Linked DNA regions of Homo sapiens. The protein of the gene in region 1 purifies or fractionates together with the protein of each later gene. This does not show direct contact. Each region holds a gene or a part of one and is shown on either strand. Other genes may lie near its edges.

Region 1 (3,500 bases):
TGTCTTGCTGACTGAAGCCCACGGTTTGGTCATAGAACTGACCAGAGTAATTCTGCAGATTAGAGCACAGCGGATGGGGCTGCCCTTTCATCTCCATCTTGATACCATTCACCCTGCAGGTCTGACTTGTGTCACTGAGCTGTCCTGACTGCAGAGCAAGGCTGTCCCTCGGCATAGCCTGGCGCCTGCTGCCCCCAAAGCTGGCACATGGCTGGTAGCCCCTGACAACTGCCAAGCTTGACGGCTGGCTGCCCATGCCGTGAGCCCCTGGCAGGCAGCTCTCTGGCCCTTGGTAGATGTTGATGTGTGAGGTAGCACTAATCTGCCCAAGCATCTGCTGACCGGGGCGGCCTGCCCCCGGGTGCTGCATGCTGTCGCCGAGGAGCTGGTGAGCCAGGTACCCCTGTCCCACTGGGTCCTGGTTCTGCATGCCATTCACCATGCTGCCAGCTGACTCATTTGGCGCTACCGGCAGGCCGAAATTCAGCTGGCCCCCGCTCCCTTGCATGGGGGTGCTCTTCAGCTTTGAGGCTTGAATCCCGGCACCACAGGCACCGTCGAGTGCACCAGGGGCCACTGGCTGCCTGTTGAGACAGTTCCCATACTGCGGGGCCTTACAGGGCTGTTCATGGAAGGCGTTTCCACTGGTGCCACTTCCGGGGCTGTTGTGGAGCATCAAGTGCTCTGGGCCACCGTAGGGGTTGCTGTTCTCCCCGAGGGTCTGATAGCCCCCAGCAGGCCCGCTCCTCAAGGGGTTCTGCGGGTGGACGACCATGCCGTTGCAGAACCCAAAGGCGCGAGTCTGCGGCACAGCGGGCCGCGGCCCACACTTGAGCTTGGAGGAGGACAGGTCGGCGCTTCCGGAGCTGACTTCGTTCCACTGAATGGGCAGGTCGGTTTTGCTGCCCTCGGGGCAGGGCTGCTCGAGGGCATGGAACTGCTGGCCAGCGTGGCTGTCTGGCAGCCCGGGCGCGTCAAAGTCACCGGGCCCGTGGGGCACTTTGCTGTCGTCCGGGAGGGCGCTGGGGAAGTGCTGCTCGTACCCTGCTTGGTTCTGGGAATTTAAATACTGCACCACGTCGTCCGGCAGGAAATCCTCATCGTTCAGGTTGGCATCAGCGTCCATGGTCAGGGACTCCAGGGTGACGTTCTCGGTGATGCTGGGAGGACAGGGGGACGAGTGGAAGTTTCGGGACTGGCCGCCCTCGGGCCGCGTGTAATTCTGAAGCACGAGACTGCGCTTCTCCGCGGACGTGGCCATCGCCGGGGGGTTGCAGCTGCTGAGGCTGCTGAAGCGCGGCACACGAGGCAGGGCCAGGCCCTCGGAGCCTGTCCGCACCGGGTCGCTGGCCCTCCTCACGCCGTGGCCCGGCGCATCGTGCGGCTGCAGGTGGCGCCGCCCGTAGCCGTGGGCTCCCCCGTCGCTGCACCTCCTCGGGGCATGAACTGGAGGCAGGGCCACGCCAGGCTCGAGGGCATCCCCGAGCAGCGCCAGGCGCGTCTTCAGGCTCATCCTCTCCATGTTGGGCAGGGGCGTCGGCGGCGGCCCTCCTGTGGCAGCCGCGTACTTGGCCTTGAGGCGGTACTGCTGGGCGGGCGTGAGGCTGAGCAGGCTGGGCAGGCCGTCGCTCTGGCTGGCTTCGCTGGAGCGGCGCGAGGCGTCGGTGGAGATGGGGTCGTAGGAGTCGGCCACGCTCACGTTCTGCGGCCGGCCCTCGGCCTGTGACGCCTCGCTGGAGCGGCGGCTGGAGAAGCAGGGCGAGATCCCTGAGGAGCGGCGGCTGCTCAGGTAGGCCGAGCTGATGGTGCTGGCGCTGCTGTCCCTTCTGTTGAGCATGTTCAGCATAGTGACGTCCACCCCAGAGAGGTCGCTTCTGCCCGGGAGAAGCGTCATGGGCCCACCCAAGCTGCAGGTGTTGTTGGACTGTGTGCCTGGAGACAGAGAAAGGGAGAGACCATGCGGAGATGAATTCCCTTCGAGCATGACTTACACCAGGCATGAGCAACCCTTTTCTGTAAAGGGCCAGCTAGGAACTATTTCTGGTGTCCCAGGCCACATTGCCTGCCTCACAACTACTCAGCTCTGCAGTGTAGCCCCAACACGGCCACAGAGAGCAGTGAGCAAGCAAGCGTGGCGGGGTGTCCATGAAGCTTCCTTTACAAAAACAGGGGCGGCTGGAGATGGCCGCAGGCTGTAGTTTGCTGATGCCTGGCTTAAACAAAACAATAACAACTCCCTCGATTCACTGAAGCCCCTCCCCAAGCGCTGTGCAAGGACAAAAAGAATCTTGTGATGGTACACAACGCTTGAGTTCCAGGCAAGTCCCCAGGCAAAGGTACTCCACGAGTTTCACATTCACGCTCAGGGCGTCCTGTTCATGCCACATCCTACCAACAGGTAACACCTGTGTTGGTGCAGGCAAGAGCTTCACCCCTTAGGTGCTCTCAGAAGTGTAATCTCAGAAGTGCAAACTGACCTGGGGACTGACAGTGGGGAGGGATTTCTGACTTTCCTTGAACTGGGTAAATATAAATAAAAGTGGCTGCTAACCTCGTGGTTTTAAATTTTGGAAACCAGAGACAGAGTTCCAACCACAGATGCCTCCACTGCTGGCATTCCCTTACCCTAATCTAACAGTTATGATTTCACCATCAGAATATGAGTCATGCACAGTCACATTTTTTTCTCAATATTATCCTGTTCCTAGCTGTTTTTAAAATATGGACAATCCCAAAAGGCAACTTGAATGGGCTAAACATTAACGGATGGTTACAGCGTCATTTTAGGACTGGTGGAGAAACTAGCAAACATAAAACTGAGGGCCTGCATTTAAAAGAACAGAAAAAAAAACCCTGAGCAGATGCATGGTCTGATGTAGAACTCACCATTTCCTATGAGAGGAGAGACCGCAGGGGCTTTAGGGGGTAGAATGGGGTTCAGTCGCGGAAACATTCCATTCACTTGTTTTAGCCTTTCTAGTTTTACGTGCTCCATCCATTTGGTCCCTGCCGGGTTTCTCCTGGCTTGCAAAGCAAGGGCTGTGGTTGCAGTGGAAATGGTTGAGTCCATGATTGGGGTTTCATCGATGGCACTGAGGTCTCCTATACTACCTCCATCGGTCAGAGGAAGCTCGAGCCCACTGTTGGAATAGTTGCTGATGGGGGACTGTTGGCTGCTGCATGAAGACTGACCACCAGGGCTTGGCTGAGATGTCTGTTGGGGTCAAGTGGAAAGGAAAGAAATGTCACCAGGGAGGGTCAAGGAAAGGGAGCCAATAATGAGAGCTCATGCATATCGAGATCTTCAAGATCATCAGTTGGTTGAATGAGAAGAAAAACTATGTTCTGGTGAATGGAGCTGGCCACTTTTGGCCAGAATGACGGATGGACCACCAGGCTGATGGGCAACAGGAGGCAATGGAAAGCAGAGAATGCTAGCTGCAGTGTGACTGGCATGGTATCAGCCATGGAATCCTGCCCCAATCGCCAACTCTGCAGAC
Region 2 (3,500 bases), on another chromosome or scaffold:
CCTTCATCTGCACAGCCAAAAGCAAGGTGTGCAGGTCAGGGAGTGGGGATGGAGGAAGTCTGTCTTCTGGGGTCTCTGAGCCCCACCCATGACCCCCTTTCGCCTTGCCCTGCAGTCCCCAGCCTATACCCTGGTGTGGACCCGCCTGCACAACGGGAAACTGCCCACCCGAGCCATGGATTTCAATGGCATCCTGACCATTCGCAACGTCCAGCTGAGTGATGCAGGCACCTACGTGTGCACCGGCTCCAACATGTTTGCCATGGACCAGGGCACAGCCACTCTACATGTGCAGGGTACACCTCCCATCTATACCTGATTCTCCCCTCCTGTCTCTCCCCCATTCCCACCAGAATTAGCACAGCATTTCTTCATTCTGCTGATCATTTCTGAGCACCTGCTGCATGCCTGGTCCTGGTCTAGGCTCTGCAGAAGCAGGGGAGAGAAGCATGTACAGTATCTCGGTCCTCCTGAAGTACACGTCCTAGGCAGGGAGACCATAAGCATGGGAATAAATGAACAAGCAAGATAACTACACATGGCGATGAGTGCCAGGCTAGGAATGATGAGAAAGCAAGAAACAAGGTGGGAGAAGGCCAGGAGCGGTGGCTCACACCTGTAAGCCCAGCACTTTGGGAGGCTGAGGCAGGTGGATCACTTGAGGTCAGGAGTTCCAGACCAGCCTGGCCAACAGGTGAAACCCTGTCTCTACTAAAAATACAAAAACTAGCTGGGTGTGGTGGCAGGTGCCTATAATCCCAGCTACTCAGGAGGCTGAGGCAGGAGAATCGCTTGAACCCGGGAGGCTTAGGTTGCAGTGAGCCGAGATCGCGCCACTGCACTCCAGCCTGGGTGACAGAGCAAGAATCCATCTCAGAAAAATAAATAAAATAAAACAAGGTGGGAGAGGCAAGGGCTACTCTAGATAGGGCAGTCAGGGAGGGCCTCTCTGAGGAGGTGACACCTAAGCTGAGACCTGAAGGAAAGGTAGGCATTGAGCAAGTTAGAGAGTTGGCAGAGTGTTCTTGGCAGAGGGAGCAGCACATGGCAAGGCCCTGAGGCAGGAGCACGTTGCTATGTTTGAGGAACAGCAGAGACCACGTGGCTGGGGCTGTGGGAGGGAGGACGGGTGTGGGCAGACGGGAGAGCATGGAGTATGTGGTGGATCAGGGTAGGAATTTTGGATTTTATTCTAAAAGCAACAGGGAGTCATGGACAGGTCTCAAGGTGGGAGGTCACAAGGTCCTGTTGACATTTCCCAAGCTCCCTCTGGCTCCTGTGTGCACAGATGGCCGTGGAGGGCTAGCCTGGAAGCAGAGAAAGTAGGCAGCAGGACTGTTGTGTGAGTCAGACGACACTCCCCACCCTGAGTGCATGTTCCTTTTCCTCCCTTGTCAGCCTCGGGCACCTTGTCCGCCCCCGTGGTCTCCATCCATCCGCCACAGCTCACAGTGCAGCCCGGGCAACTGGCGGAGTTCCGCTGCAGCGCCACAGGGAGCCCCACGCCCACCCTCGAGTGGACAGGTGAGGCCGTGATGGGAATGACATTCAAGGCCTGACTCTCCTGGGTGTGGGAGGGGAGGGGCAGGACTCTGAGCAGGCTTGGTGGGTGCTGACCCCACGTCTACTCGTCAGGGGGCCCCGGCGGCCAGCTCCCTGCGAAGGCACAAATCCACGGCGGCATCCTGCGCCTGCCAGCTGTCGAGCCCACGGATCAGGCCCAGTACTTGTGCCGAGCCCACAGCAGCGCTGGGCAGCAGGTGGCCAGGGCTGTGCTCCACGTGCATGGTGAGAGGCCGGGCTCAGGGTGGGGGCCGGGAGTGTGCTCAGCCCAGGGCGTGTTCTCACAGGACTCTGTCTGCAGGGGGCGGTGGGCCCAGAGTCCAAGTGAGCCCAGAGAGGACCCAGGTCCACGCAGGCCGCACCGTCAGGCTGTACTGCAGGGCTGCAGGCGTGCCTAGCGCCACCATCACCTGGAGGAAGGAAGGGGGCAGCCTCCCACCACAGGTGAGGAGATGGGCCCACCCAGGAGGAGGAGGCCCACAGGCTCTGCAGAGAGTCCCAGCCACCTTCCCTCCCCCTTCACGCCCCACCCCACCTCCTCCTCTGTGGCTCCCTTCACCTCCAAGATGGTGGTCTCCTGCCCCTGCATCCCAGCAGGGAGCCCCTGCCGTCCTCTTGGCTGCCTGGCGTTTGTCCTCCTTCATGCCCCACTGGGCCCTAATATTGGCCCTGCACCTGCCTCTCCCTTTTATGCCCTATCTGTCCCCCTGGCCAGCCGTTGTCCAGCTGCCTCTGGGGCAGCTGACCCATCTCACCCACGGCAGGCCCGGTCAGAGCGCACAGACATCGCGACACTGCTCATCCCAGCCATCACGACTGCTGACGCCGGCTTCTACCTCTGCGTGGCCACCAGCCCTGCAGGCACTGCCCAGGCCCGGATCCAAGTGGTTGTCCTTTCAGGTACGGACTCTCTGGGAATGGAGGGGTGGGGAGGGCAAGCCAGGGCTCCCCTGGGGCCTGCTGACCCCTACTCTGGCCCCAGCCTCAGATGCCAGCCCACCGCCGGTCAAGATTGAGTCCTCATCGCCTTCTGTGACAGAAGGGCAAACACTCGACCTCAACTGTGTGGTGGCAGGGTCAGCCCATGCCCAGGTCACCTGGTACAGGCGAGGGGGTAGCCTGCCTCCCCACACCCAGGTATGTGGGCCCTGAGCCTATGGCAGGGGACCCAGGGTGCAGGGGCTGTGGCGGAGGCGGGGCCTGTACGCTGGGCGGGGGAGGCGGCACACTGCCCCACACGTTCCACCAGCAGAAGCCAGGCCTCATCTCCCTCCCTCCCAGTTTCTAGCATGGGATGGCTCGGAGCAGAGCCAGTGAGAGTTTGAATGAATCACTGAGGCTGAGGGAGTGGTGACAATAGCCCCCGTCCCTGTCCTCACGTACCTCTGGCTCCTCCTGGCCCAGGTGCACGGCTCCCGTCTGCGGCTCCCCCAGGTCTCACCAGCTGATTCTGGAGAATATGTGTGCCGTGTGGAGAATGGATCGGGCCCCAAGGAGGCCTCCATTACTGTGTCTGTGCTCCACGGCACCCATTCTGGCCCCAGCTACACCCCAGGTGAGGAGCCAGGTGTGGCTGGGCCGGGGCTGAGCCCTAGGAGCTCCCAAGGAAGATGCCTGTGGCTTCTTCAGTGGGACCAGGACAGGGGGGCATTCCAGGCAGGCTTTGACCCTTCAGCGCCTGCTCAGAGAGAGAAGGAGGTTGAGTGGACGGGAGGGAGGTTAAGGCTGGTCCAGCTTACCTGGGCTCCCTATGAGTGACTGTTTCAGAATTTGTCAGGAAGCAGCAGAATGTCCAGGTTGAATACTAAGCTGGGAGTCGGCTGACCTGGTTCAAATCCCAGATCTGCCCCTTAGCAACCTTGAACTAGCTTTTAACTTTTGGGGCCTCAGATTCATCTATGAAATGGAGCAGTACTGCCCACCTGCTTGGTCATGGT

The links. The genes of interacting proteins can lie anywhere in the genome.
Region 2: the proteins of GLI3 (region 1) and HSPG2 purify together in Homo sapiens (affinity purification with mass spectrometry; one large-scale study listed by BioGRID and IntAct). This does not show direct contact.

The regions. Positions count from the first base shown.
Region 1 is NC_000007.14:41,964,710-41,968,209, forward strand, and holds part of GLI3 (transcriptional activator GLI3), read right to left. Parts: intron 3,215-3,500; coding exon 2,887-3,214; intron 1,933-2,886; coding exon 1-1,932. UniProt on the Homo sapiens protein: Has a dual function as a transcriptional activator and a repressor of the sonic hedgehog (Shh) pathway, and plays a role in limb development.
Region 2 is NC_000001.11:21,853,811-21,857,310, reverse strand, and holds part of HSPG2 (basement membrane-specific heparan sulfate proteoglycan core protein isoform b precursor), read left to right. Parts: coding exon 1-26; intron 27-115; coding exon 116-296; intron 297-1,398; coding exon 1,399-1,524; intron 1,525-1,635; coding exon 1,636-1,788; intron 1,789-1,864; coding exon 1,865-2,007; intron 2,008-2,327; coding exon 2,328-2,463; intron 2,464-2,545; coding exon 2,546-2,700; intron 2,701-2,967; coding exon 2,968-3,118; intron 3,119-3,500. UniProt on the Homo sapiens protein: Integral component of basement membranes. Component of the glomerular basement membrane (GBM), responsible for the fixed negative electrostatic membrane charge, and which provides a barrier which is both size- and charge-selective.